2 separate regions of the Homo sapiens genome follow, and region 1 is linked to region 2. Evidence: fine-mapped expression QTL. A gene starts in region 2. The other region holds a variant in brackets. All regions are shown on one strand. Distances are between the middles of the regions. Region 1 holds the start of LOC124902885 (a long non-coding RNA gene). Region 2 holds the start of MGP (matrix Gla protein).

Region 1 (16,128 bases), 28 kb after region 2:
TTTAATTAGAAAGGCAGTGAGTGCCAAAAAACAAGGAATGCAAGATTCAGACTAAAAATGTGTCTCATTCGCTAGGATAATTGTGCCAACTTTCGTTATAGGAAGCCAAAAGATCCTATCAGGGTAGTTATCAGATCATTAATTTTGTGTCACATACAACCTGTATTGTTACCTTTAAGAACTTCCTGTATCCTCGGCTTCAAATATTTCAGAAAGTGGTCAGGTGTAGTACAGAGATCTGGGGCAATCATTGCATGTTGGAGTCCCGGATTCCAAGGGCTTTTGGGAACAGATTTGTGAGAAAAGAGTGAAAAGGAAGCAAGCAGGAGGATGTTTATTTTTAATAAAGGGACCCTGCCCTAACTTCCTGAACTAAAACCAGTCTAGACTTGTTTTTTCCATTTTACACAATGTCCGTAACAACAGAATACATTTATTAAAACCAAACAAACTGGGGGTTGAGTTTTGGCACAGAAAGTCATACAGAAATAGAATCGGCTGCTCTTGAGTTGGGGTGAGTGATTGATTTACAAACCAGCAGTAGATTAAGGCTGCACTGGCCTTAACTGAACTGAAGTTATTTTCATTATGAAGAGACAATAGAGAGGCAAAATGTCTGGCCTGGTGCCTGGGACATGAACTAGTTAGTCTATCAATTCTGACCTCCTTTTCCTTCAGTTTTCAAAACTCAAGAGATTAGAGCTAGGAAGGACCCTTATGGCATTTTCTTCATAACTGTGTGGAGAAAACTGAGTCTCAGAGAAGTTAGATGTTTTTGCCTCTGCATTCACAGCCATAGATTAAAGCAATGTATCACTAAATTACCAGACAGTACCTACAAATGGGGAGATTTAATTTTGGCTTCTGTCGGTTGGGAACATAAATGTGGCAACAATTCAATTTGCACACAGTTGAGCATAGATTCACAGCCAACTCTTTTTTTTTTTTTTTTTTGAAAAGGAGTCTCGCTCTGTCACTCAGGCTAGAGTGCAGTGGCACGATCTTGGCTCACTGCAAACTCCACCTCCTGGGTTCAAGTGATTCTCCTGCCTCAGTCTCCCAAGTAGCTGGGACTACAGGCACCCACCACCACACCCAGCTAATTTTTATACTTTTAGTAGAGACAGGGTTTCACCATATTGGCCAGGCTGGTCTCGAACTCCTGACCTTGTGATCCCCCCGCCTCGGCCTCCTAGAGTGCTGGGATTACAGGCATGAGCCATGGTGCCCGGCCCACAGTAAACTCTTTAGTAATTGGTAGACTCTGTGTTTGGAGATTATCTGGCTTCTTCCCTCTCCTTCTCAGCCATTTTAGGGTGCCTTCAGTAGTGCTTCAGCATTTAGATGCAGGTAGGTGTGTACTTAATCAACGTTTAAGGAATGTCTGAGTCCAGGCCAAAGTCAATGTGTATTTTTACATTTCAGAATGCTTTCCATTCCTCATCTCGCTTAATCCCTACAGTATACTTATAAGGAGACAGAAAGTTAATTTGAGCTGGATGTGATGGCAAGTGCCTATTGTCCCAGCTACTCAGGAGGCTGAAGCAGGAGGATTGCTTGAGCCCAGGAGTTCAAGGTTACAGCTATGATCATACCACTGCACTCCACCTTGGGTGACAGAGTGAGACCCTATCTCACGAAAAAAACTGTAAAAAAAAAAAAAAAAAAAAAGAAAAGAAAATTAATTTGAACTCTATTTCACCTGTGGAGAAAACGAGATACAGTGATATTCCCAAAATGGCATACTGAGTTTCACAGGGAGGTCAGGATTAGAACCCAAATATCCCTCCTCTAATTTTCTTTACAGTGGGCCATGATCTCCCCCCAATCCCCTCCATTAATAGGAATTAGAGAAGTTGTAACAGTAAATGAATCCCGAAATGTACAATGGAAAGTTGTACAGTAAATGAATACTGAGATGTAGTGAAGTTGTACAGTAAATTAATACTAAATACTATGTTCATTTTCACAAAAAGTGCTTCTAGTTAATTTACTTCAACATGTTGGGCTAATTTTGGAGATGTACAACATTTGGAACCAGAACAGTCATTTCATTTCTAAGACTCATTGTTTTAAAATTTAACTCTTCATGCCCAAAGAGACATCTTCTTTCACAGGCCCCTTCATGATGAATGATACTCCTTCCTTGACTCTTCCAATGTACAGTCATTTTCCAATGGCAGACTGCAAAAGACTAGATGTTTCAACTAAACCAAACACTAACAGTCCTTTGAGTGCTGAGCACCATAACTGGTGAAGACAATGGCTGCTTGGAAAAGTGACTTTATCCTTAGGAGATTTCTCCATTCCCTTGAGATTTCTTCCCTTTCATACAACTGTGACCACTTTGTTCAGATCTTAGAGGCTCAATCTCTCTATAGTAAAAATAAAATAAAACCTTCTATCTCAAAGGATTTTTTAGTATCTTTATTTAAGGGGTGTGTCTTTTACAGAAACGTAGAAATTTGTAGAGGAGGATGAGAAATTAATATTAGTTCTATGAACAAAATAGCCTTTGCTGTGGTTTGGGTTCTATTCTGTTTTTGATGACTAAGAATCATAACTAATAATGGCCTCTTCAAAATACATTTCTTTTAAGAGCCTGATTGATGGTTATCACAGCTTTCCTCATTCATTCGTTAGTTATCAAGTGACGAAGTCCTTTTAAGTTCATTCCTAAAATTTCCATCTCTGCTTAGAATTTGATAACATTGAACTTAAAATCAGACATTTTGAGAGGCATGTAGAAATTGTGTTTTGTGACCTGTGCTTTCCAGAAATGGCTATGTTAAGATACAAAGTTGTAATTAGAATCACACAGACAGAAATGGTGAATCTTCTTGAGGAAACCTTGAGAAACTTGAATATTTTGCAACTTAGAAAATTGGAAAATGAGAAAATGGAGGAACCAGAGGGTCATAAGACAGTTCTCAAACTGTAGATAGCCTTTAGTAAATTGCCATTTTAACACTTTGTCTGGCTTGCATAATTATCTCCAGCCTTAACTATATTGGCTACCATTCTTTCCTAAACATCAGCTGGCTTCAACAGAGCAGTGATTCTCTGACCCATTAGCACTCACCTTACAAGTCAACATCACATTATCACCCACCACCATTCTTGTATTTCACAATCATGTAAATATCCTACCACAAACCACCCTGCCCTCCCATGAACACCTAACATTACCACTTGTTGGCTGACTTAGCCTCTTCCCTTCCTCAGCCTTGGTATATTATTAGTGGTGTTATGGGAAAAAACAGCATGGAGTCAAGAGAATGAGTCAATCCAAGAGAGGCTGCAGGTCTGAGGAGTTAGGTCACAAGTAGTCATTCTTCCCCATTTTCATTCTGTGACGTGTTTGCCAAAGTGTGGTGGAGTAAAGGGTATGTAGGTCTCAAAAGAGTGCCCTTTGGAACCAATAAGATTCTGATGGTCATGGTGTACCAGGTAGAGATTGCAGGACAGGGCCAGAACTTTCAACGTACTGTTCAATATGTATCCACCTCCTTTCAGAGACTTCCTTCCCTGATCATTCCCCTTTGTGCTCAGCCCTCATATTATCACTCAACCTGCCTGAACTTTTGTCCCATGTAGTGACCTAGAGCAACATTATTTGAAGAGATGGAGATGGAGGGAGAAGTAGAGATAGAGGCCATGAACTGGTAGGAAAGTAGTAAAGGATGGACCACAGGGTGGGCAATTATTAGCAAAAAGGAGGATGTGGCAGGAGTGAGGAGCAGGAAATGAAGACAGGAAGGTAAGGTACTACCAACTCTGGACATAAAGACAAGAGATATTTAACAACAGATAAGATCACCTCCATGAAATTTAGCTGGCATAAATAAGCATTAAGGTCAGAATTTGGAGTTAAATCTAACATCGTTTTTTGCTCACTCCCAAGTTACTATACAAGTCTTTGCCTTATTCTTATTGCGTATACATCATCATCATTATTATTATCATTAAAATATTTGACTATCTACTAAGTACATTAGAAATTCAGGCCATTCCTCAAGTTCCCAGTGAACTTCATGTTTATCTTACACTAGGGAACTAGATGGCTGGAGAGGAGAAGATGTGAAGTCAACATTAGGCTTCGTGAGTCTGATCTATTTCCTCGACCTCCTGGGCTCAAGGAACCCTCCCACCTTAGCCTTCTGAGTAGCTGGGACTACAGGTGCATGCCACGACACCCTGGTTATTTTTTATTTTTTGTAGAGACAGGGTCTCACTATATTGTTCAGGCTAGTCTTGAACTCTTGGCCTCAAGTGATCCTTCCACCTAAGCCTCCCAAAATGTTAGGATTACTGTTGTGAACCACTGCACCTGGCCAGATCTATTTCCTGATACATCTTTATCTCTTAGTAGGCACTCAAGAAATGCTTGGTGAGGGAATGAATGAGTGAGTGATTGTAAAGTGAATACTTCTACTGCCCCGGCAGGATTACCTTTTAGTGAAGACAACATAGACGTGTTCTCCCCCAGCACAAACTTAATGAGGGTGCTACATCTTTTATTTGATAAAATGAATCCATCCTTTCCTTATTCTTTTGCATAGCATTGGTGCAATAACTATGATGGTATAAAAGGAGATACAGTTCTAGACATGTGTAGTGGATGCTGTGGTGAGCCGCACAGATCACCCCAAAGTCATTAGCTTCTCCCAGCTCTGAGTATGTTGACAGCTAAGAGCTCTTAGATGAATCCCACCCACCAACCAGCCCAGAAATCTCCCTCTGCTCAAATGAGCCATCTTGCCCACGAGCATGCACCTTTCCTATGTGCAGCTTGCAACATCAGATGTTCAATGTTGGGGTATAGAGGCCTGGGTCTCATTCTCCAATTTGGGGTACTCTACAAGGAAACCTCAGCACCAAATATCCACATGGGATAATCTAAGCCTTTGTTGTGACTGCATCGCAGCCTAACTTATATTTCTGTGGAACCCTACTTTCTTTATTTCTTCACAGATCCCCAGACGCTCCCCAATAAACTCCTTGCAATGGAATTTAGTTGCAGAGTCTTCTTGGAAAACATGACCCGTAATACAATGTTAATTTTAAAATTAACAATTTTAAAATTGTTACTTCACCACAGCTTGAATTATGTCAAACGTGCTCTATTTTTTCTTCCTTAAGTGTATGCTAACACCATATTACCATTTTAAGACCAGTGGGCTAATGTAGAAATTAAATCCTGCTATTAAGATTTAGTGAAATTGTTTGGATAATTAAACATTAAAGCCTGGATTCCACACAACTTTTCATAAACTATAGAAGTGGCTTAACACCCTCATCCTTTACTCACACATATCCTTCCACCCCTAGTATGACTCAGATATTTCATTGTCAAGGCCACAAAAACAATGACTTCTTGTTCCAGAACAGAAAGAAAAGAGAGACCTATCTTAGAAGTGATTCGAAGGAGGGTGAATCACCTTCAAATTTACAGAGGTATGATTTTAAAATTCACTTGCTTCTTTGATTTCCAGAGTACCTTTTTTCCAAAAGTTCAACACTCAAAAGGTGTTCGTGTTTAACTTTCTCCTTTTCCAATTCTCTAGGTCTCGCCATGTAAGGTTTCTGCAATTAGGAGCCATGAGTCAGATCCATCCCACTTCCAGTCTTACTTTTCTCTGTTTAGAAAACCAGATATTTTCAGAAAGGTGAAATAAATAGGACTGGTTCCAAATTCAATTGTGAAATAAAGTTAGCTTATGATGGTTGTGGACTGTTTCCTTTGTGGCTCCTCCTCCCCCAGCTCTGGGGCCCCCTCAGCCCACGGCCAGCCTCCTGCCCAGTCCCCTCCACAACATACCTCTTTCTTTGTGTATTGCTTTCCCTGTTTGGCTGCTTTCTGTCCGTGACTCAGAACCATTCTGGTGGCTTCCATGTTGCCTGTTGTCACTACAACTGAAAAGTCTCTGTTCTATAGCTCATCATCCAATCATCACCAATTGCTCTCTCTCTCTCAGAGGGCAGCTTTGCCTGCCACACTCATAGTTGTTTAATGAATATTTAAATGAGTGAATGAGTATATAAATAAACTACTCTCTCTCAATACGCTACATAGCCCTCATCCTACCCCTGACTGCTCAAGGTATATGTGTATTAAGATGGGCCTGATGAATGCAGCCTTCCCTTCTGGCATGACCCAATAGGCGAGGAAGGACAGGAATCCCCTGACAAGTGGACGTTGGGGCTGTTTTACTATGTATTTCTAATGCTTTGACATCTGGGACTTTGCTTACCTTGGAGAGATTGCCCCTCCCTCCTAGAGATAGCCAATTCCTGGAGATAGTAATAAACTCACCTGCTAGTATAGCTTTTATATGCAAACCAACCAGTCCAGAGTCCATACCCCAACTATCTCCTTACTGGACTCTCATGGGGCTCTCACATGCTGGGCTACCACCCAGCCACTCCACCCAGGGCCAGGTTCCAGGCAACAAGGGAAAGCTCCTATGCCCCAGAGCCTGCTGAAATTATCGAAACCAGCCAATCCTAAGCCTCCTTACCCTCCTAACCCTTTCCCATTTCTTCCCATGGAGACCATAATAAAGGCCCTTGTCATTTCACCTTTACTCCTTCTGCCTTCTGACTGACCCTGATACTTCCCTATGTGGCCCTGCACAGCATGGCATGCTGCCTCCTCTTGGGAACTGTGAGTAATAAACTATCTTTCAAATGGCTATCTTTTTTGATCTGTTGGCCACCCCATACCTAGAAAACAATAAAAGCTACATTTAAAATCTGTTATCTCAAATACTTTTTCAGCCTCAAAGAAACAGCCTGAATGAAGTCTCTGCCTTCCCGTAAGTTCTAACAATTAGAGAAATGATTATTTCCCAGAGAAGGCAATGTAGTATTAACTTAAGAGAAAAGTAATAGCCAAACTTTACTTAATAGGGATTATCACCCTGGGATCTCAAGCAATCCTAATAATTATTACATTAACCTTAATAAACTAAAGTTCAAAGATAAAAGTAATTTTTCCAGTGTCATAGAGGCACATACATAGAATAGGTGAGACTCAAACCCAAACTTTCCAGTCATTCCTTTGAATCCTGCTTCAGTCCCGCTCCTTCCATCATAGTCTTCCAAATATGTTAACATCTTTTTCAAATTTATATTGTATAATATTATCACTTCCTTCGTACTCTAAAGAAAAAGTATGGCAGTCTTGTCAGTGAGGGCCATTGAATGATTCCACAATGAAAAATAGCTGAGATGTATCCAGACATCTCAACAATAACATAGCCCTGGGGAAATGGATGTAGACCTGGCAAAAGATTCTCAAGACAGAGAAAAAATTGCAGATGTTTATAAGATCTGATTTTTTTTTTTTTTTTTGAGACAGAGTCTCTCTCTGTTGCCCAGGCTGGAGTGCAATGGCAGGATCCAGGATCTCGGCTCACTGCAACCTCCACCTCCCAGGTTTAATCGATTCTCCTGCCTCAGCCTGCTGAGTAGCTGGGATTACAAGCCTGCACCACCATGCCCGGCCAATTTTTTTTTTTTTTTTTGTATTTCTTGTTTTTTTTTTTTAAGGAGAGACAGGGTTTCGCCATGTGGGTCAGGCTGGTCTTGAACTCCTGACCTTGTGATCTGCCCGCCTTGGCCTCCCAAAGTGCTGGGATTATAGGCATGAGTCACTGTGCCCTTCTAAAGATCTGATCTTTAATAAATGGGTGAATCTTTACAAATTTCTTCTTTCTGAAGTCCCATTCTTTGGTTATGAGACCCCCGGAGCTACAAAGAACAGGACTGCCTATGAAGAAGACCGGCAAAAGTAACTGGCAGTTATGAAGAACTACAAGATGAGAAGGAAGGATTCACTTCAATATTATACACATACAAATAAGTATATAAAATAATATAATAAAATTGTTATTGAATGTCAGCAAGTAGAAAAATGCATTGTAAAGATGTTAAGACCCATGTGGTCCATTTTGATTATTGTTTTTGAGGGGAACACTTCAAGAAAAATAATTGAAAAATTAGCACAATATCAAACAAAATGTAGCTCATGGGTCCTACTATAGTTTGGGTTCCAACTATTTTAAGCAAGAAAGAGGAAAAGTTGGGAAAGAATGAGGCGAGAAAAACAATGAAGTAAATCAAATGATAAAAACCAAATGATGAGAGTTAGATTGTGAGTATGGGGGAAAGATGGCTAGATAAAGGGGCTTCAGTGCAGCCAGCAAGTGGTTAAAGGCATGGTTTGAGGAGGGCATCTGGAAGCTGTTAAGAATTTCCACAAAGGGTGGGCAAGAAGAAATAGCTT[C/G]CATGGCCAGAGGACCTCAGCTGGATATCAGGAAGAATTTCCTGACCGTAAATGTCAAGAGCTCTCGTTTACAGGATCCAAAGGAGCCTTCTGGGATGTGCCTATCTTAGGAATATTTTTCAGCCTCAAGCGAGAAGCTGTTTGGGTGGTTTTCTGCAGCCCTGGGTTGGACTGTGTGACCTCCACAGAATACCTTGGTCTCGTTGCTGAAGGGCACGCCTTACACTGGGGCTTTCACAGTGTGGTTGCCAGCAGCTGACTCCCGCCCAGGGGCTGTGGAGTTTTCCCCACAGAAAGAACAACTGAGCCTTTCACTCCCTGTTCCTCACTTGGACCAGTCCTTAGGTACATCTGTGGTTTTTCAGCTCTTCAGCACTTAGGCACTTTCCTCCTGAGCCAAGGGCCTCCTGGGAACAATGCAGCATCTGTGTGTTGATAGTAACAGCCTATGGGCCAGAGTCACTCAGCCAAGCTCTCCTTTCACCACACAGGAGCTGGATCACACACCTTACCTGCAATAATCCAAGGCTTAGTCAGCCTCAGCCCGTCCCACTGCCAGTGCCCTGCTTCTCCTATCTGCTCCCCAACCTTTCACCTAATTTGCTTCCTAGCTCAGTTGCCACATTTGTTCCAATCCTCATGCAGGATGGTCTCTATTTTCCACCCATCCCACCCACAGAGTGAACAATAACATGTTAGTGGCTTATGGTCTGACACTAAACAGTGGGCACTGCAGAGGGAGGAACATGCTGCTTAGTTGGGCAGCTGGGTATTTACAAAAGGTTTGGCCTGCAAAGAGATGCCAGCCTTTCTCCTATAACATGATTGCCTTTTATTTATTATGCAGGTTGTTGATTTACATAGGGAGTTGGAGATGCTAACCAAGCATGGAGTTTTCACATGGTCTATTTCTGCTGAGTTCAGGGACTTGGAGACAGCCTTTAACTTCTGGCAAAAAGACAATTTCACAAAGGTGTTTAAAACCATCCTTTGGTTTTTGATCCTGAGTCAGAGACGGACATGTGCTTATGAAAGAAGGTAGAGTTTCAACCCTTAGGTAACCTTAAAAGAGCAGGAACTATGTTGTGTGTAAGTCATGTGCAGTATACAAACTTGATATTAAATGACAAATTGGAACAATCTTTCTCTAGGAATGCCTCTCTTTCATAGAGGCATCACAGTGAGTCTCTTAAAGCCTTGATCTAGGTGTGTTACAGATGGGCTTACAGAGTATGAATGCACGATAAGAAGGAAATTGGATAGGGAGTGAGGATATGAAATTTAAAAGAAGGAAGAAGAGAAAACGAGATTTTAAGACAGGAAATGAAGCTCTGTGTGTGTGTGTGTGTGTGCGTGTGTGTGTGCACGCGTGCGTGCGTGTGTGCACGTGCGTGTGTGTGTGGTTGGCAGGCCTAGTGATCCTGTTGTTTAGTGTCTCTGAGATTTGAGTTGTGCCTTTTTACTTTGCATAAAGTAGATACTTGGCCATATGTAGTTCCAAGGAGAAGTCAGAGTTCCACCTTTGGAGTCTTTCCTTCTGATTCACGATTTTCTTTCTGGAAAACATTATAACAATGATATTTAGATTAGTAAACTGAGCTGTTTACTCCTGGAAGTCCTAAATCCTTCTTTAATTTTTATCTCATGAACCCTGTTATATGAAGTTTGATTTGTTGCCCATTAATGCTTTACACTAAATGCTGAAATCCAAAATTCAGCCTCTGAATATGCAAGGCCTTTCCAAACATGCTTTTCTAGTTTGAGTCTCACGATATATCCTAACAAGCATCCTGACTCCGGCCACCATATCCTCATAGACTTTTGCTTTTAATCAAATCTAGTAGAGCCCAAATAATTTTTTTAACTTTAATTTTTTTGCTTTTATCTTTGTTTTTAATTGACACATAATAGTTACGTTTTTATGGGGTACAGAGTGATATTCTATACATGTATACAGCTTGTAATGATCAAATCAGGACAATTAGCATATCCATTGCTTCAAACATTTATCATTTCTTTGTGTTGGAAACATTCAAAATCTACTCTTCTAGCTATTTGAAAATATATAATACATTGTTCTTAATGACAGCCACCCTGTAGTGCTACAGAACACTAGACATTCCTCCTATCTATCTGCACTTGGTATCCATTAACCAACATTTTGCTCTCCTCCCTCTCTGAGCCCAAAGAATTCTTATTCAACTGGAAATAAAAGGGACATAGAAAGAAAACAATTTGCTTTACCTGCAGTCTCACACTTACCAACAATTTTCCACTTAGGAATCCATCACAAAAGTTTTGCACATGCTCTACGGAAACTTCTGCTGTGGGCAGTGTATCCCACTCGTCATCTAGAGTCTGGTAAATTGCCAAAGCTGGCAGTTGAGACTCCTTTAGTTTGAAAAATGATATCACCTTCCCATTTTCTTTCATACCACTGTCCACCAGAATAAAGAGAATCTGCAGTTGGGGAAGTTTGAAAGAAAAAGTTCTATCTGAGGTGACGTCCAGGGATAAAGAGATACCTTGTAATTGTTGCAGCTCACACTGATTGAATTTATGGTCTGCACCATGAAATTGAAATCTTGAGTTAAAATAAATTATTGCAGCTGTAACAAAGAACAAAATCATGTCTTTTGTGGGAACGTGGATGGGGCTGGAGGCTATTATCCTTAGCAAACTAACACAGGAAGAGAAAACCAAATATCACATGTTCCCACTTCTAAGTGGGAGCTAAATGATGAGAACTCCTGAACACAAAGAAGGGAACAACAGACACTGTGGTCTACTTGGGGGGTGGAGGGTGGGAGGAGGGGGAGGAGCAGAAAAGATCACAATTTGGTGCTGGGCTTAATGTGTGGGTGATGAAATCATCTGTACAACGAAGTCCCATAACACAAGTTCAACTACGTAATAAGCCTTCACATGTACCCCTGAACTTAAAAGTTAAAAAAAATGAATTTCCTATTATTTTGTGTTGCTTTGATGTTTTATCCCTTTGACGAGATTGATTTAATTTTAAGAACATAGAATTGGAAATTACTTTAGTGATTACCTAAGAAAGGAAGTATAGCCTAATGGTTAGGAGCAGAGAGCACGTTTTAAATTCTGCCTCTGGTACTCTCTAGTTACGTGAGTTTGGGCACATTACTCAGCCTCTCCGAGACTCAGTTTTCTCATTGGCAAAATGGGCTTTTGGTGGGGGAAATTAAATGAGGTAACGCATTAATATTTTTATTCAGCTTTTGGCCTATAGTAAGTGCTTGATAAATGTAGATTATTTTATATTATTAAATCAAACCTTCAACCCAAAGTAGAAATCTTCTTTATAATATTCTGATCAGATGATTGTCTACTTTCAGTAACACTAAATACTTTCAGTGTTAGAGAACCAACCATCAGAAAGGCGCTTATTTTATTACCAGACAGTTCTCATCATTAGAACAGTCACTAGTTAGGCACAGTAGCCTTGAAGTAGTTGAAGTTTTACTATTTCAGTAATATCAAGCAGAACTCCACAAAGGAGGGGAGGGAAAGAAAGAAATATTCATTGTATATTGAGCAGGCACCAGGTACTTGATAGGTGTTTTATATGAGAAATGAGCCCTGAGGTCTAAATCTCTATGAAATTATGGGAAGGATTAAACAAATGGTGACTTAGAGGTGATTTTGCTTTCAGTCTCTTTGGATCTCTATTTTCTCTCTACTAATCAATGCAGGAAAAAACCCACACTTAATCACTACAGGAAGATATAATTACATATGCCTTTAATATGATAAAATACAACATCTCTAATTTCAAATAATGTGATTTATTATGTCCTACTTCTTGCTTTGCTATCTCCTAACCATAGTTGTTTTCCTTATTTATCTCTGCTTCCTAGCCCCATCTCCCTTTTCCTAGTGTCCTGGAGGTGTGTATGCAATAGGATATTCCCATTCTTGCCTTACCTTCCCCTGGAAGAGCTTGGCTGCCTTCTGGTATCTGTGCATGTTCTCTTCATACTCTGGGGAGGCCTTGTTCATTATCAGGAGGAGATGAATCTGAATTACGCTGTTGAATAACCCAATCACAGTCTGGCAAGTCGAAATGTGTTACAGTAGAGTGAAAGCGAGAAAGAATGCATTAGTACCTGGGAAGGAGTGAATAGGTAGATTGAAACTTAAATGAGAGCTGGCCACTGGTAACACAAATGGAACTAGCTTCCAAGATGGCTCTCAGTTAAGTCTTACCATCTCGTTTTCATGCAACTGTGTAGATCCTTCCTTCCCACCCTGAATGGGGCAGAACTGAGTAACCAAGACAATGTTGCAGAAATGATGGAGTGTGACTTCCAAGGTGAAGTCTTAAAAGACATTATGGTTTCTGCTCTTCTCTCTATCTCTCACTCTGAGGAATACCAGCCCCAGTGTAGGGCACTCAAGCAGTCCTCTGAGGAGAAACGCATGGCCAGGAACTAAGTCCTTCTACTAACAGCCAGCATTGACTTGCTATTCATGTGAGGGAGCCATCTTGGAAGCAGATCCCCAGCTCCAGTTGAGCCTTCAGATGACTGCAGCCCTGACCAATGACTGCAACCTCCCAAGAGACCTCAAACCAGAAGCACCTAGCCCTAGCCACCCCAAATTGGATGACCTGCAGAAACTGCATGAGATTATCAATGTTTTTTATTTGAAACTCCTAAGATTTGGAGTAATCTGTTTTGCAGCAATAGACAACTAATACACTATGTAACATATTAGTCACTTTATTTCAGCCCCCTCTCTTGTTGCAAGACTAGTCAGAGACACTTAAAATGTAGTCTTTGTTTGAGTACATATTAGTAGTTCGTACTTATTGAGTGTTCATTACGTGGAAGGCACTGTCTCCAACTCTTAACAAAGAATAAGTAATTTAATCTTCAAGGTCCCAGTTTTTCAAATGAGGAAATTGAGGCATAGATAGACTAATTCTCCAAGAGTCAAATAAATGGCAGACAGGGATTCACACCAGGTGGTCTAGCTCCAGAGTCCATGCTCTTGATCATCAGGATGGACTGCCTCATGCACAGTGGATAGCAAAACCCCATATAAACAAACTCGATCTCAAATGTGGTTGAACCAATGTACCAAAGGTCAGCAGAAGGTGAGCTCTTCAGGAGACCAGAAGCATTGACCTTGTTTTGCTGATTAGAGATGGTGATTTTTCCATGAAGTTGTCAATGACTTAGAGGAGTGGAACAGCCACCAGTCAGACAGAGGAGAAGAAAAAGAGGGGAATCCATGGCACTGGTTCCCTTCATTTCACTGTCCTGAAATAATGCTGCGAGTCTACTTCAAACCAATCTCATCTCTTTTCACCTCTCCTAAATTCAGAAAGCATTGCTACAAAACTAGTGTGTACACAGGAAGAGAGAGAACATGGTGGGTTAACAAATCTTTGGTCAGAGTCTTAGGAGGATGGGGAAGGGCACAGCTAGGTAGAATTCTTCCTGATTTTTTACACAAGTTTGTAAAGATTCTCCAGCTCTTTTGGCTGCCTACAATATGTAGGCAAGGAGGGCCCAGTAGGTCCTTTCCTAAAGATTTCTCCGTGGAGTTTAAAATCAAGTTTTAGATTTTTCATTTGGGAGATTGGATGACACATGATTTACTCTTGTTTTACTAAATCCTGCTACTTAAATTTAGAGCATTCATTCACTATTCTAACACTGAGATGGAGGATAATTCCTGGGAAGAGTAAAGAAATAAAAGCTAAGATGTCAAAAGGTACAGTTATCTTGGCAGAAGGGATTGACCATAGCCGAATGGATTCATTTAATCCTAACAGACACCTTGACGCCAAGTACTGAGTGTGTGCATTAAAAGTGCGTGGCAGGTCAGGTGCATGGCTGGGATTTTCTGCCCAGTTGCTACTGGTGCAAACCTTTGCACCAGAAGCAGATGAGAAACAGCTATAGTAGAATGGGCAGTTCTCCAAATGAGAAAAATATTACTTTCAGGAAATAAAAAAAGTAACAATACAGATTGAACTTGCTTCTTTAAAGAAATTCTTACTGAATTTTCTCTTGATATAATCTGCCTTCACTAATAATATGGAACTTAAAAAAGATACGTCATTGCTCTGCGAAATGAGAGACAGATCAGGCATAAGAAACCAGGAAGGTTAGTGCATGCCCCTGCCTTAGCTAGCTTGCAAAATGCCACAACACGGAGGCCATAGCCCAGGGACCATAAGATCATCTTTTCTGGCCCCACATGCAGAAGAACACCTTTTTGATTATTACTGCCAATACCCCAGGGGCATATGTGTTTGGAGCCTTAGCAGAAGTGGAAATAGAGTCACCAACTCCACAGAGATAAAGATGGTGTGAGAGGTAGGCCAGATTTTAGTCCACAAGAAAAGGGGTGTTTCCTGTTGAAGGCAGTGTAGGGCAATAGACAACCACAGGATTCAGTCACAGGCACCAGTCATAAAAAAGCAAGGGCAACTACATAGGCTGTCTCTGAAGCTTGAATTACTAGCCATAGGGCTTTGAAGAAGTTACTTAAATTTTCTGAACTCCCATTTACTCTACTGTAAAATGGAAGTTGGCAAAATGTGCTAATGCATCAGTTACATTTTGTCCCTTAAATTATGCCTTTTCTATTTACTCATGATGTGACTTTGAATAATGTTATCAGTTGGATCTTGAATGTTCTCCTCTATAAAATGGACACAATAATTTCCTCTCTTCTACCTCAAAAAAAATCAATATGAGGATTGAATGAAAAAATGAGGATGAAAGGGCTCTGTAAGTTCTCAAAAATCATACCATGCATGTAAAGAACTGGTATTGGAGAATAGAAGGTACAGCATTTTGAGCTGATGTAGATCACTAGAAATTAATACCCTGTAAGGTTCTGTAATCTATGTCAGGGAAAATAAAGGATGGGACACATAAGATAATTCTGTAGACTGTTATAGTCTATAGAAAGTGTTAGAAGTCCATTTGGTGATCAGGACAGGTGGAGCACCACCTTTACTCAGATTGCATGCAGCATGCAACACCAGAGGAAGACACACCAGGAGAGAAGGCTGAGGCATGGTGAGGGTGTAGGCACTTGCTAGTCAAAGCATGGTTTGCAGCTGCTGCCAGACCAGGAACTGTTTGTTACTGGTCTGCAAGGAGGTACATACAGAAAATGAAATGGTTGTTTAGAAACAATTACAGAAACTTTACATTCCTGTGACATCCAAATATGTGATCAGTGAGCTTCATTTAAAATTTTTTTGTTTGTCTTTCATTTATTCTTATTTTATTTTAGGCACACACCATCATACCTGGCTAATTTTAAAAGTTTTTGGTAGAGACAAGGTCTCGCTATGTTGCCCAGGCTGGTCTCAAACTCCTGGACACGAGTGATCCTCATGCTTTGGCCTCCCACAGTGCTGGGATTACATTTGTGAGCCACTGCACCTGGCCTTGAGTTAGTCACCTTAACTGTGCATTCTGGTTCTCTTTCTTACTAGCAGTGTGATAGTTCATTTAACTTTTCTCTGTTTTTTTGTCTAACAGGAACAAGTTAAATCTTAAAAAGGTGTAGGAAGGATAGTAACATAAACAATACAGTATTGTATTGGTCGAAGAATTGGAACTCTGGGAGGAAGAGACCTCTGTTATGAAGACCAGTACCTTCCCCGACTCAGGGTCTGAAGGGACTAAGAACAGGAAGTATTGTTTACCACAGGGTTGTACTCTGTCACCATGTGGAGGCTGTTGATCTCAATGAAACGGCTCAATTTGGTGGCATCAATGCTTTCAATGTCTTCGTCCTCTAAATTCAGTTGTTCATTGTCTACCTGGATAACACAAAAA
Region 2 (16,128 bases):
TTGTAGGGTCAAGCCAGAACACGTATGAAGGTTAGTGGGACTAACTATAGCCTGTCTTGGTACAGATGGTTGCAAGGCCACTGCTAATACTCATTGTTTCCCTCTTAAAAACTACCCATTCTAGATTTTGCTCACTCATAGCGTAACTGGTGGTCTTGGTGTCTAACTGGTAAGGGAGTTAGAGCTCCTTTCTTGAGAGTTGGGAGCTTCTGCACTATGCTCTTCTAGACCATGGCTGATATATCTGTCCATTTACTATCATGATTGGGCACAGACATATCAAGAGATGTTTCAGTGGTATCAGATTCACTCTCCCTCCTTAGATTGTGTAACAGAAGCTCTACCTTCTCCTGATGAAATTACCTTCTCCTGATGTCAATTACCCCTGTTAGGAAGCCCTACCTTCTCCTGATGGCAATTACCCTGTTAGGAAGATGACTCCTTCATTTGCTGCCTGGCATGAAGGGCCTGAAGTTACTGTGAAGCTTTAGAACATAAATGAGACTCTTCCTATGTTCCATGGTGAAAATATTTCCTCTTTCTAAACCACAATTTCCAGGCCTATAGATTGGAATTGTAGGGATTTAAAGTATAAATTCCTCATGTGGCTTACAAATGATGACAAGTAAGGCCACTCCTGCTTCCACACCTTATTGTCGGACACATATAGTCTACCTACTGGGGACACAGCCCTATGCAATGCTTGGTAGTTTAGGGTATGTAACACATCCTGGATTAAGGTGTCTCATTCTTGCCAGTGAAGCAGAGTAGATTAAAGTGTTTTGTTCTGAACTGACATTAATGGCCAGGGATACTTACTGGTGTAAGGGACATGGCAGAAGGTATATCTAGGAATAATCAGACGGGTAGCAATGTCTGGGTTCCAGAGGAGGGCCAACTAGGATAAAATAGAACCCTAGTTCATAAATAGAGGCAAATATAGGCAAAGCAGAGGCAATAGAGGCAAAGTTTCAGGGTTCCAAATCAGCATGAGTTTAGGATAGAATTCACTCTCATTAGAGCTCTGTATTATAACAAGGAAGCATTAAAATTGAAGAACTGATGGAAAGGCTACTAATGATAGATAATTAAGGACATCAAGAACTTAAGGTACATATAACAACAGATTATTTACAGATTCCCTCCATTCAAAGGATAAGGGTACATGGTGCTTGCATATATTTTACTACTACTACTACTACTAGTACTACTATATAAGAATGTAAGTTTAGTTCCATTCTAGTATGAATTACTTTGGCTGCAAAAATTTCAAACCCAGTTGAGTACAAAAATGAAGATCACTAATTTTCTAGACTTTTTTGAAACTGCATGCTGCTCAGCATAGGTAGCCATGGCCTGGTGGAGGAGAGGAAGAGTGAAGTGAGTACAAACTAGCCAGTGCTGTTTATAGTGTTTGGCTATGAATCCTGCAGACCGCTCTTCATAGGCAATTGTAGATGCTTGAGGTGTAGGTGTGACTCTCCAAAGAGTCATTGTCTTGCCATTTTTAATATCCAGACCATAGTAATAGTATAATACAATACAATAGAAATAGCTAACAGCTATTGAGCACTTACTACATGCCAGGCAGTGTTTTGTGCACTTTACATATATTAATTTGTTTAATGTTGACAGCAACTCTAAGATAGGTACTAGAATAATCTTATTTTGCAGATAAGGGAGTTGAGGCCCAGTGAGATTACTTAACTTGCCCAAGATTGACACATTCTCAGAGGCAGAGCTGGCATTAAAAACTAGGAGGCCTATCTACAAAGTGCTTATTCTTAGACACTCTTCTAAGATGCAAATTGCTTTTATGGGTGGTGGCAGAGTAATCTGCTTATGTTGAAACACGCTTTGGTTCTCAGGCTAAATTAATCTACAGAAACACCTTACCAAGATGAGCAAAGGGGAAGAGAATAAGACCTGTAATATGTTACTTTATGTGTCTTAGTTCTGAAAAACAAGGATATATCAAAAAAAGAAATTATAGAGCTGAGACGGTAGGTAGATAAAATTTTGACTGAGGTAGAAACTACATTAAAAATAGCTTCATCAGTTTGGAAAGTGTAACTGTACACAATGGGAGGCTGGTAAAAATATATGGGCTATTTGTACACAACTCTTTAAGAAACTGGCTTAAAGAATTAGATTTTATGAGGTCAGTATAACTGAATTTCTCAAGAAAATAGAATTACCTGCCCTTGGGACAGTCACTTAAGTCACTTAGATTTTAAGCTCTCAAATTCTTCAACTGAAAAATGAGGGGATTGAAATAGATTATTGCTGAACCTCTTGACAACTCCAAAACTATAAAACTAGTGTTATGTAACGAATAAAACAAGCTGGAGCGAGAGGATTCTGGAGCTAGAAAATGCTGGTTGACTATTCACTGTTTACCACCCGAATGATTGTCACAGATTTGGTTCCCTAGGAAGCAGACTCTAAGATTTAGAGATTTGTGTGTGAGTGGTTTATTGGGGAACAACACATGAGAGGGGTGAGGCAAGTAGGGCTAGCCAGAGTGAGCATTTGAATTGTGATGTAACTGCAGTATATGTCTGAGCCAATTTTACTGGGGAACTCTGAGGCTGGGATCACCGTTTAAATAGCCCTGCCTGTTTTAATGGACTTTTAGCTAAGATGGAGTCTAAGGAACTAAGGCTCCATCTAAGAAAGGGGGATTTACCTTCCCTTCGGAAACAACTAAAGAAACAGGCAATACATGTGAAAAAATGTCTTTCAAGACCCTGGACATTAGGCAATTAAAGATGGCGATTGCTATGAGATGGAAAACAGAGTAAGTCCTATGACTTCTCCAGCCTATTGCCTTAAGGGAGTTTCTAGGCCATAGCTTAGGGAGAGGGAACCAAGATGGAGTCCAGTGGACATTTTGAGTTGAGGTGGAGTTGAGAGTTCTGGAAAAACACAGCGACTATATTTCACATGGCAAAATACTGCAAAGGAAAGAGTGAGAGGGATCCCTGGATATCAGTGGAGGGCACTCTCGTGCACACACTGGACTGATCGGCATATGTGTGTGGGGAGATTACCATCCAAGAGGAATAGAGGAAACAGTGGCTGCTGTTAACTCAGGGCTACGATTATTGTCATGGGACATTGGGCGCAGTGCTCAGAAAGGTCTTGCCTCAGTGTGGGGAAATAATTAGCCTTAGATTAAATACTGATCAATTTTATCCACATCATTTAACGGAATCCCAGAGCAGAGCTCAGGAACACATACAGAAATAGAAGAATATCCAGTACACAAAAAGTCTGGCATCAAATAAAATTAAGCAAGAATGCAGAAAATAAAATTTTCTGCATTTTGGCATCAAATAAATGTCTGGCATCAAATGATGTCTGGCGTCAAATAAAATTAAGCAAGAATGCAGAAAAGTAGAAAATTGTGGTTCATAAGTAGAATAATCAACCAATCAAACCAACCCATAACTGACATTATGTTAAAATAGTTATTGGAACAATTTAAATGTATCAAAGACATTTAAAAAGATAAGTAGAGGCGTGGAAGATATGAAAACATCCAAATCAAACTTCTGGTGATTAAAACCACAATGTCTGGCATGAAAAATACACTAGATGAAATTAATAGTAGATTAGATATTGCCAAAGAAAAGGTTAATGAACCTGATGACACATTAATAGAAAGTGTCAAAAATAAAACACACAGAGAAAAGCAATTTGTAAAAATTAAAATAACATCAGAGAGTTGGATTACTTCAAGTGGTCAAATGTGCATGTCATTGGACCCTCTAAAGGAGAGGAGGAGTGAGGGATCAAAGTATCTGAAAAAATAATGGCTGAAAATTTTTCTAATTTTATGCAATCCAAGAAGGTCAATAAGCCTCAAGAACAAGAAAAATAAGAAAAATCAAATCAAGATAGGTCTGAATCAATTTGGTCAAAAGCACTAATAAAGATAAAAATGTTAGAAGCAGCCAGAGATAAAAGATGCAGTATACACAGTGGAACAAAGGTAAGAATTACAACAAATTTTATATCGAAAAATTGTGCAAGCTAGAATTCAGTGGAATACCTTAAAATAATTAAAAGAAACGTGGCAACTTGGGATTCAATATACAGTGAAAATATCTTTCAAGAATAAAAACAAGCATACAAAACTTAAAGAATCCTGCAGACCTGAACTATAAAAAACGTTAAAGGAAGTCGTCAGGCAGAAAGGAAGTGACACCAGATGGAAAGAAGAATGAAGAAAACAGGAAATGAAAATTACATGGGTAAATATATGAGATCTTTTCTTTCTTTTCTTTTTTATTTTTCTGTAGAGACAGAGTCTCACTCTGTTTCACAGGCTGGAGTGCATTGGTATGGTCATGGCTACTGAGATTACAGGTGTGGCCACTGTGCCTGGCCCGGGATATTTTCTTATTATCTAAACTTTAAAAGAAATTATTAAAATTATTTAAAGCAAGAATAGTAAAAATGTAGCGTGGAACCTTTAACAAATGTAGAAGTAAAAATATAACATAAGTAGAAGTAAAAAATAATTGGATTGTTTAGACTATTTACATATAATGTGATTATTGATATAGTTAAGTGTATAAACTATTATTGACAGTTTTTGCCAATTGCTTTTATTTGTCCCTTCTGCTTTCTCTTTTCCTTTTCCTCCTTTTTTCTCTTCTAGATTATCTTGATTCAGAAATGTTTTTGACTTTGATGCATAAGAGATGAAAAGCAAATGAAGGGAGCCCTGTATTTGCCACAATTTACAATAGGAAAATCCTGCAAAAAACATACCAGATTCCATTCACGGATTCCAAGGTAGAGAGGGTTTAGAGAATTTATGGCTGAGTGAGTGCCTTCTTAGCTTCCTTCTTTTTATGTAGTTATTTTTCTAATTAATACTAGATATGAGATGAACAGAATCTCCTATTTTGGGTAAGGTGGGCCATGATTTAAATATCTCAATATCTTCCCAAAAGAAAGCAGATTTACAAGATGAAAGTATCACACCAGAAGTTTATTATGGAACAATCACATATGTTGACTCTCCTTTGACCCTCACTGCAGTGCACTTTCATTACTTATCAATCTGGGGGCGGGAAAAAGGGGTGCAGCCAGACAAGAGAATATACAGGAAAGAAGCATTGTATATAAGCCTATGTATTTCTGTAATGCTGCTACAGGGGGATACAAAATCAGGTGCCAGCCTCCAGAAAAAAAGAGATTTTTTTTCTTCCCTCAGTCTCATTTGGTCCCTCGGCGCTTCCTGAAGTAGCGATTATAGGCAGCATTGTATCCATAAACCATGGCGTAGCGTTCGCAAAGTCTGTAGTCATCACAGGCTTCCCTATTGAGCTCGTGGACAGGCTTAGAGCGTTCTCGGATCCTAGAAAGTGGAAGAAGAGGCCAAAATTGAGAAGGATAAAGTGGAAAAATACAAAAATGGAAAAGAAGAAGAAAATATTGGAGAGACTTTCTCTCCATGCCCCCCTATATTAAGAGATATTTAAAGAACAGGGAGAGGCTGGGTGCGGTGGCTCAGGCCTGTAATCCCAGCACTTTGGGAGGCTGAGGTGGGTGGATCACTTGAGGTCAGGAGTTCAAGACTAGCCTGGCCAACATGACAAAACCCCGTCTCTACAAAAAATGCAAAAATAGCTGGACATGGTAGCACGTGCCTGTAATCCCAGCTACTTGGGAGGCTGAGGCACGAGATAGTGCCACTATAATCCAGTCTGGGCAACAGAGTGAGACTCTGTCTCAGAAAAACCAACCAACCAACCAAAAAAAAAACCAGGGAGGGAAGGCAGAACAGGAGATTTTTTTTTTTTTTTTAATGAAAATAGAAGTTTTCTTTCTGTCCTCCTTTCTCTCCTCCTTCCTTCTCCTTTCCGGATCTTTCCCCAAATAATTTTCTAATAATTCAGTTGTTTTCTGAATATTGCTTTTAAGTTTTTTGATTTTAAAGATACAATTAGAAATAATGTATATGATGAAAAAGCTGTTTCCCACTCCAATTCAGATCTGTGATCTACACTGGGAAAAATGACCACTCCTCATGAAGTTTTGTTACTGACCTCTCTTGGACTTTAGCTCTCCATCTCTGCTGAGGGGATATGAAGGTATTTGCATTTCTCCTGTTAATGAAGGGATCTTAGAACAGAAAATAAATAAATGCAGTTTTAGCGACACATAGCTGGAAATATTTCCGTGAATATTCCTTGACACAAATATATTTGAAAGTGCCTTAACTTATGCAACTCATATAAACGGAGATTGGCAAAAATTAAAGGAGAGTATAAAGTAGATTTCATTAACTTCCTGATCAAATGAAATCAGTAATCAATCCATGTGTCTTAGAGACTTGTCATATAGGCTTTGTTGGTTTTGAGTTTGGACGATCACTTTGCCTTTCTTAATTTCTGTATTTCTACTTGGTAGATTTTAAATTCCTTTTGAGGAGAAATTCTCTGTCCTGAGGATTTATGAAGCATAACTAGATTGCCGATACATGAACAGTTTAAACACTATAAAAATAATGAATAAATTAAAAATGAGAGTGATGTGCCATTTCCTCCTATGCTCAGTCTTTATAAATCCAGCTATTCAACAGCAATCAGCTGGCTGGGTGTGGTGGCTCATGCCTGTAATCCCGGCACTTTGGGAGGCTGTGGTGGGTGGATCACTTGAGGCCAGGAGTTCGAGACCAGCCTGGACAACATGGTGAAACCCCATCTCTACTAAAAATACAAAAATTAGCCAGGCATGATGTCATGGGCCTGTAATCCCAGCTACTCAGGAGGCTGAGGCATGAGAATTGCCTGAACCTGGGAGGTGGAGGTTGCGGCGAGCCGAGATCACACCACTGCACTCTAGCCTGGGCGACAGAGTGAGACACTGTCTCAAAAAAAAAAACAAGAAAGAAAAACACAAAAAAACCAAAACAGCACTCAGCTTAACGTGGCGCCTGTGGTCTCCCAGCTGACTTGGCGTCCAGCTCTGTGCTTTACCATTTGTCATTACTCCTCGTTTTCCATCTGTGCAGTTGACGTGGTGCCAATTTAAAATTTCCAAATGAGATTTTATGGCTTCTAAATATGTCGCCTGTAGCTTAAATCCCATATTGCACTACTTCAAACTTAAAAAATTGCTCCTTTGGCAATTTTTATAGTCATTAGATTTAAAAATTTACTTTAGTTTTCCAAAAGAGGCCCCCTTTTCCCTCCCTGTTATATATCTTTCCATCTTGTTTATTTAAAAATAAGAAGAGGTTCTTTAATGCAAGGGATTTGAATAAAGAAGTTAAATATTCACTTACTAAGTTCATAAGATTCCATGCTTTCATGTGATTCTGAAATTAAAAAAAAAAGATTCATTATATCAATATTTATCCATGATTCATTATGTTATTATTTATCAATTTAGACACTGTGATAGTTTAAATACAGGGATGGAAGAAGAGGAAAGAGTCTAAAAACATGAAGAATATATTTAGCAGTGTGGTTATTAGAAATTTCAGGAATTTAGGATTTATGAGGTTTTTCTCTAGCTCTGGCCTTGCTGTGGATATCTCTATATTTTAGTTTCTCTGATGTTGAAGGAGGGAGTGGCCATTTTCAGCTAAAATTTCCCAAGGGCTATGACGTCTTCAGACAAGCAAAATAAGACACTTTAAGTGCTGTACAGAAGTCTCCAGAGAACCTTCTTCTCTGATTTATTCAGAGCCTGTTTGAGAACAGGGTCAAAGAGGATTAAGAAGGATCCAGAAGACAGCCAGGTTTCTCCAGGCAAGAGAACTACAGGGCAGTTGCTCTGCTGGGCTTACTAGGGCAGGTTTCTAAGAGGGTTCCGAAAGCCTCTTAAGAACCTGTGTTAAATTGGCAGCCACAGAAACCACTAGCTCCAGCTGACAGCTCACCCTGGGCACGATGCCAGTTCAGAGAGAGAACTGAAACGATATCAAAGCCGAAGTTTTCTTCTTTCTGCCACTCTCCTGAGCACAGCAGATAAATTTTGGAATAAGAAGCTTCTATTAATATTTGCCAGCAAGTGAATTTTCTTCAAAACTTAAAAAGGAGGTGAAGAAATCAAATCCTCTAATACAGAAAATTTGTGAATACAAGAGTGAGAAGCATAATCTTTATGGTTGTTAATGTAATTTAAATTTTAAAACAATGAAAATATCTAGGTAATTGAAACAAAAGACTGAAATAAGTAAATAACTTTGCTTCAGATTTCCTTTTATAAGCTTTGAACAAATGCAGGTATATTTAATGACATATAGAAAACAGGCAAAATTTATTTTCTGACAACAGGAGTTATGAAAATGATTCTTTTCTAAAATTCTTTTGATGTAAAACTTTATTTTAAAATTAATTAACTGAACAAACATAGTAAGTTCATGAGATTGTCCAGTCCCTAGAAAGGGCTATACTTAATACTTCACATAAAAATGGATTTTCTCAAAGGCAAGTGGTTTAAACAATACCCTTAACCCATTGATACCAAAGTCTAAATAAATATCCTTAAAAATGAGGATGCAGGGGGCTGGGAATTTGGTATCTTCTTTCTGAAATATGAGTTTCTAGATATACAGAGACTTACCACTGAACGGGTTTGCCTGTTAAGTTGCATAAGACTCTGGATATTTAGGATATAAAAAAGACTTAATAGAACAGATCAGTTTCTGCGGAGACTGGGAAATGTGAAAGTAATGGTACTTTAAGATTATAACAGAGAAAGGGGGAAGAAGAGGAGGAGGGAGAGGAAAAATAGAAGTAAGCCAAAGTCAGAGGCAGAAAAGTAAACACAGAGAAATGGGAGAAAAGTTTCTCACCATAACACAAAGTTACTACCGCTAAGGCGGCCAGGATGGCAAGAAGGATCAGGCTCTTCATGGTTTCGTCCTGCAGGTCAGTCTCAGGGTCTTGTGTAGCAGCAGTAGGGAGAGAGGCTCCTACGGGATGTTAGTGGAAGGCTGTGAGGTTTTTATAAGAACCAGAGCAGTTGAGAGGGGAGGAACCAGTGGGAGAGAGCTGGAGAAGGTGGGGAAGGGTTGGCACTGAACTAGCATTGGAACTTTTCCCAAACAGTCATTCCTTCCAGATATTATCTACTCTGAGTGGGCAGTTTTCCCTAACTGCTGGACCTGACTGTGTTACACAGGATGCTGCTCTGGTGCAGAAGTTTTGGCCATCGTATGCTTGGGGACAGACCTGGGCAAAAGCCCACAGAGGAAGTTGCCACAAACACATGATCTACCCTCCTGGCCCTGACCGCAGGGCTTTTGGGTTTGGTCCACAGACAGAGCCCTAGTGTTCTGTTTGTTACCCTGATTGATTGATGAGAGGTTTTGGGGGAGAAAGGACTTCACTTTCTTTTCTTTTCTTCTTTTTAACCTTTGCCTCTTCTTCTAGGAGAACTTCGCTTTCTACACTGATTATAATTTAGACATCTTCCCAGTAGGGCTGAATCCTAGACCAATCTATCAATCCCAGACTAATCAGGCATTTGCCTGGGGATATGCATCTTTGGCATTTTTCCAAGGGTTCATCAGGATGGAGATATCCGGTGCACCATGAGTTCTGTTTCCTTAATCAACACCGTTGTAACTTGCCCATCCAGTTTTGTGACATTAATTCAAACCTGTGCCCTAGTCCTCTTTTAGGCAGCGTATCAGTGCTGGAAAGTGCAGCAAGGATAAGAGGGTACTGTTCTCTCATTTCTGAGGGCGTTGTCTCGATAATTAACTAACTTGATAGACTTTTTAGTGAGTGGCAGGTGAGATGCAAGGTACTGTGCTAGGTGCTGTGGGGGATGTACAGACAAACAACACACCTCCCTAAGGAGGTAAGTAATAGCTACTTACTATTCACTTTGCTCTTTCACTGTAATGTATCCTCAAGCACAGGTTTTCACTACACCATCAGGCCCAGAAGTACTAGCTTATTTTCCACAGGAGGATTTCAGTTTGATGCCTCTGGTTATCTTGTATAGAGAGGTCTTTTCTTTCTTTCTTTTTTTCCCCCTTCTTTTGCAATCACAAAATCTGTCCTACCAGATGTGCCTCTCTTGCTTGGGAACCCAATAGTTTTCTTTGCAGACAACAGACTTGAAGTCACAGAGCAGCAGATTGTAGAAGAGCTACAGCTTCGGGACCTCTGACTCTTGAGCTGGAACAGCAATAGGGCTGGGTTGGGGGTGGGGTGGATGTGTCTTTCAATACTGATGTATTTCAAGGAGCAGTGATGAACTAGGTGGAGCCTCATGCTTCATTCTTTTTGTCTTGTTGGGATGGAGTTTCCCTCCCACCCTCCATCCTGTGAAGAGCTTTTATAAATATTAACAGAGTCCCCATTAAAAGAAATAGCTCCTTTGAAATCTGAAAGATTGAGTTCTGAGGGATCAATAAAATTCAAGTTTTCTCTCCAAAACCTAAGAAATAGATTATCTGTGCGAAAATCTTAAAGAAAATCTCAGAAAGAAGACCGTGTATGTTCATCCTTGATAAATTCAACCATCACAATTTCCACTAATGAGACTGGCGGTTGTTCCACTCTTTAAACCACAACCTACTATGAGTGTTAGTTTCAGTGTCCATCTTGGAAGATGAATCATCTGAATCATTACATGATCAATGAATAATTTAAAGTGCGAAAGCCAGTTCACTATATTGCATGACTTTGGGGGGACAAGCTAGCCATAGATAAAAGTTTTATACGTACTTAGCTTAGTAATTAACCACCAATTAATATAACATCAAACAAGTTGAATTCCAATGTTTCACCCTTAAAATGAGTAGTCTACTCTCCCCATCCCCACTCCATCTCCAGAATTAAAGAGAAATCTTCCCATTTTCCTGCTATAAATATGTGCTTTGCAATGTACATTAGCTCTGTCTTTTCCAGCCAAGTCATAGATGTCTCCTTTATCCCCAAGTTCAAATGACAACTATAATCTTTCAACCTCTGACATCACAATTGTTTTTTTATTTTTACACTCCCAGAAACTAAACTTGAAAATCCTACACTTCTCATTTCAACTTAAGGTTCACCTTTTGTTCACCTTAAATCACTGCTTCCACTGGATTCCCTAAACTTAAGCATTTCTCTTTATCGTCTTGGTTTTTGTAAGGCTAACTTTCTTTTGGGAGCTGTGTCTCTTCGGTCCCTCATCTGCCTTTCCTGTCCATTGCTCTCCCATCTATTTCTGGTTCTTCTCTGCAAAATCCCATTTATATATGATATGTAAAAATTATTAACATGTCTGAGAATCCAGAGCTCTTCTTTTTCTCCTCTGTCACCTTACTCCCCATTTCAAAGACAACTTTGTGAATGCCAACTCCAGTCATATGTTTTTATGATGAGGACTTGGACTAACGCATGAAGCAGGGATGGGAGCTTTGCATTAGAAAGGACCAAGATTGACTCATCTGAGAGAAGACAGAAGAAAAGAATGGAAGTAGGAAAAAAAAAAAAACGGAGAAGGGGAAATGAGAAGAGCCTTACCAATTTGGTTTGCTGGGTGAGTTTTAGGTAGAGACTGAGTGACAGAGAAAAACGGAGGCAGTTGTAGAAGGTGAGACATATTAAAAGCGAGACATGGGAACAGAGAAATAAAAGTTGCTTTGGTTAGGAATAGCATTGTTTGAGATTGCAGAATACTGTCTGAAAATTTTCAGAAAATATTGAAATTTGAACAAATTAATTTTGCCAGCTAGTTTGCATTTTCTTAATTGGGATATCTTGTCAAGACGAGACCACATGAAACTCTAAATTCTAATTAGATTTTAGATAATTATGAAAGACACTTATATAGACATTTTCCCTTAACAAAAAAGAAGTGTTATTCAGAGGAGAGAATATTTGAAGAAACTCCCAGAAGTGATAACAGAAATATGAGACAGTGATATGATTGCCAGTTTTTAAACATGTGTAGGATTCTCCTCATGTGAGGTTGGCAACGTAGGAACTGAAGCAAGAGAAGCCATGGAGTAATACAGATCTCCTATTCCACCTACTCTCAGGCAGAAAAGAGAAGAATGACCATGCCTGTCAGGGCCAGAAGGAGCTTCATGATTTCATAATTCTCCCATCCATCCATCCATCCATCCAGCCAGCCAGCCAGCCAGCCATCCATCAAGTTATCTATCTAGCCAACAAATGTACTGAGCATCTACTGTTTGTCAACTCTAGGCTGGAAATACAGTAGAGAAAAATACAGATATGGGCCCTGTCCTCATGCATCAAGTGTGCTCTTTGAACAAAAATTTAATAGTGGCTCCTCTTATTTAAAAAATTGTTAGGCAGCCAACTGGCCTTAAAGGAGACCAAGTGATGAGCTTTCTCACTGGGCTGACCATTCTTATGGGCACTCAGGAGCATCTCTGTTTCCAAAGCATCAAGAAAGGTGCTAGTGACCAGCTCAGATAATTCTGAATTTAGGGAGGGAATGCAGGAGAGGAACATTGGCAGAGCTTCTGAGAATTACTGTGGGGAGAAGCTTCTCAGAAAAGTATATTTGCCAGAGAATATACCAAAAGAGTTATCCCTTTCACATGGTATTTCTGTGACTAAAATAATGGCATAGAGGTAGAAAGTGTAATATATTTCCCTATCAATTCTACCTCCTTCTCTTTCTGTCCTTGCTTATCCTTTAACTAACTCTTTTTCAGATGGCTAGGCATTTTGTCTCTTTGAGGAATTTTCCTGGCTCCAGTCAGATTTCTTTTTCTTTTTTGCTGTTCCATGAAATTCAGCTTTATTTACTGAATTTTGATTTTATAATTTTTTTTAAACTGGCAGCACTAAAGTCCTTACCCTTGCCATTAAAGGAAAAACGCAAATGAAAGAAGAGTTAGGAAGAAGCAGCCCTGAAGACAAAAACAGAAATCACTCTCTAGGACATCAAAGAACAATGAACTAGGAGACAGAAGCCCAGCCAATGTCGTGGGACAGTGCCATGCTCTTAGTTCTTTTCTTTTAAGGGAAGCCCCTTGAGAGGATTCTGTGTGTCAGATTCTTTAACTGACATAACTTCCTAGGCACAGATAGAATCCTTCTTTCCTTTCCTTAATTTGTCTTAGTTGAACTAAGTAAGAATAAATGTTTGTCAAACTCAGGCATGGGAGGAGCATCTGGGGACTCATGGGCTGAAACTTCCAGGGAAAGTTGGAGGTGCCTGATTATTAAACAAAATAAAGGTGGAGAAGTCTGAGAGGTGGAGAGCTTTTGGCTGGGAATGGCTGGGATTTTTCTTTTCCTCCCCTATCGATTATTTCCTCCACCCTTCTTAAGAAAAGCTTCAATTTTTAAATAAGATAGCAAATATCAAATAAAAATTATACATCTATCCAAGCGCTATTATCATATGTCAAATGCTTGCTATATATTAGATGCTCTGATAGTCACTCTTTATTTTTTATTTACTTCTCTTAATAATCCTATAAGCTAAGTATAATGACCCACATCTCATATATAAGAAAATGGAAGCTCAAAGAGGTAAAATAGTTTATCCAAGATCACACAACAACTAAATGGCAAAGACAGGATTAAAACGCAGGACTGTTTGATGTCAAATCGTGTGTTTTTAATAATGATACAACCATGTGAGATCCCTCCAGGTTCTGACACCTGCTTAAATAATTTTGTGATTGCGTCTTACAGGGTTCCTTGAATTTCAAATTTCATAGCTAGAGACAAAATTACACAAAATTAAGATATACACATTTAAAATGATAATTGTCTCAAAATCCTTTAAAATAGTGCAATACAAATTAAAGGTCTACATACACTTAAGCCCAGTGAGTTAAATGACTTATAAAAATGGAGAGAGGGATAGTTTTAATATTGGATCCTAAGTCCCCTGTTTCTCTCTCCAGTACACTGCACACTAAACATCTGCCCAAACAAGCTCCAACTCAAATATGGTACTTTCCAAAACCTTTCAGCTTCCTTCAGGAATCACCAAGTCTCATCCAGTCTGTGAACGCCGATGTTTGCTGTCATCTGACACTTGCTCTGGTTTGGTGTATCTGACATATTAAGAATGTCGTCTCCCAGTGCACAAGGCCAATTTCTATAGTTACTTAGACCACCGCCCCCGTCCCCACCCCCAGAAAACTGGAAATCTCAGCTTAATTTATAGAATGCTCTGTCAACTCAAAGCAAAATAGAGAGCAGGTTCTATGTCTCCTGTCTTGACTAAAGATGAAGATGTCTTGACTAAAGGCTGGCTATTTACTCATTAGACTCTGGCTGCCTTTTCTGGATGAGGTGCAATCAAGACAAAGTCCGAGGAATTTCTCCTGCAGTACCATGGTCTCAGCTGGAAAAGAAGGCACCCTTTTATATCTATTCTGCTGTCATCCCACACTTTGGGATATCCTCGTAATCTCCTTTCATTATTCCAAATCACCAAAGTAAAAACACTCCTTTTTATATTCAAGACATTTACAACCCCAAGAAATGGAGCCAAGTAACTTGCAAGAATTGCAGGGGTTATTGGTGACTGGCAGAAACAGGATCCTAAAGGTAGGATTGGTGAGGAGAGGGGATACAAGAACAATGACATGATGTCTCTAGGAGTGAGATGGAAGCAGAGTGGGATTATATTTACCACTTGTGAAGACATGAAGGGAGTAGGGAGAAAGATAGCTTAATTCACCAAATCACAGTACCCAAGAACTTGATAGCACTGGTATGAGTTAAAAGAAGTAGTTTTAGGGAAGATAGAAGTAAAGCTTTAAACAACAGAGAATAATTTTTAAAAGTTAAGTAAACATAACATTCGTTACCAAATGAAGTTAAAACTAGTCGATGATAACTTTTAAAGTTGACATGAGAAATGAAAATATGCTGTCTTTGCAATCCTTCAGTCAGAGGTATGCATCTGAATGGACCCCATGTCTAACCTAAGGGTGCTTCCTTGAAATGGAAATTTAAATCTTTTTTAGGGTGATTTTAAGTTTAGGTAATAAATTAACTAGAAGAATATCTGGTAGTTGCATGAGTCAAATCTACCATGTTCCTTCCATATTCCAGCCCGTACCCATTTCATCTGTTCTGTCGCTCTCTCAAAACAATAACAACAACAAAAAAGCAGATGGTGGAGGGGAGTGAGCATTCCCGAGCTGCACTTCATCTAGATATTCTCTCCATACTTTTGGTAGCTACTCTAACAAACAATCGTTACAAAACCTTGATAGGACTCTAAAGACAGGCTCTGTAGAAGCTGGCCAAAGGATGTAGTTTTTAGGATAAGAAAGCCTGGATTTGACTTCTAGCTCTGCTGCTTTTCCTTTTCTTTTTTTTTTTTTAAATTTTGAGATCGAGTCTTGCTCTGTCGCCAAGGCTGGAGTGCAGTGGCACAATCTCAGCTCCTTGCAACCTCTACCTCCCAGGTTCAAGTGATTCTCCTGCTTCAGCCTGCTGAGTAGCTGGGACTACAGGCTCATGCCACCATGCCCAGCTAATTTTTTTTTATTTTTAGTAGAGACGGGGTTTCACCACGTTGGCCAGGCTGGTCTCAAACTCCTGGCCTCAAGTGATCTGCCTGCCTCGGCCTCCCAAAATGCTGGGATTACAGATGTGAGCCACTGTGCATGGCCTCTACTGCTTACTCTGTGTGTGGCATTTGATACGCTGTTTAAGCTCCTGAGCCTCAGTGACACAGGTAGGGATTATAAGTGTCTGCAACATACTAGATGCTCACTAAGTGTTAGAGGACTCTAACTCAGAGGACCATTAGATGAATTAAATAAGGCAATACCTGCCGAGCTCCTAGCTTAATGGCCTACATACTTTTAATGCTGTGGAGTACATGCACACACAATATTATTTCAAAAAATAGGTTCAACTCCACTGGTCTAGTGTTACTTCCACTTCTTCCCAATAACGAGGGAATAGATTGTTGAAAACCAAAGCAGAGGAGAGAATGCAAAACATGGAAGGGATTGACTCAGCAAGGCCTTGTCCAGTGGGAACTGTGGAACTGGCTGATGCTCAGTGTAGTTCTGACACTGCCACCCAATGGCTGCGTTACTGTTGAGCAAGCCATTTGCCTTTTTAAACAGAAGAGCTGGAATAGACCTGTACAATTTTGTGCTTCTAAATTATTTCATCCTTGAAATGAATAAACACG

Evidence for each region.
Region 1: its variant is fine-mapped to the expression of MGP in whole blood (TOPMed, PIP 0.91).

What each region holds. Positions count from the first base shown.
Region 1 is chr12:14,904,937-14,921,064 of GRCh38, forward strand. It overlaps ERP27 (endoplasmic reticulum protein 27), which reads right to left. Exons shown (of 7, transcript NM_152321.4): 4 at 15,996-16,112; 5 at 12,242-12,367; 6 at 10,553-10,750; 7 at 9,103-9,846. The coding sequence ends at 9,799. It overlaps LOC124902885 (a long non-coding RNA gene), which reads left to right and starts at 5,171. Exons shown (of 2, transcript XR_007063221.1): 1 at 5,171-5,457; 2 at 5,568-5,729. The variant C/G (reference allele first, on the strand shown) is at 8,291.
Region 2 is chr12:14,876,907-14,893,034 of GRCh38, forward strand. It overlaps MGP (matrix Gla protein), which reads right to left and starts at 8,948. Exons shown (of 4, transcript NM_000900.5): 1 at 8,825-8,948; 2 at 7,307-7,339; 3 at 6,066-6,141; 4 at 3,958-5,374. The coding sequence starts at 8,885. The coding sequence ends at 5,233. RefSeq lists an enhancer at 3,836-5,035.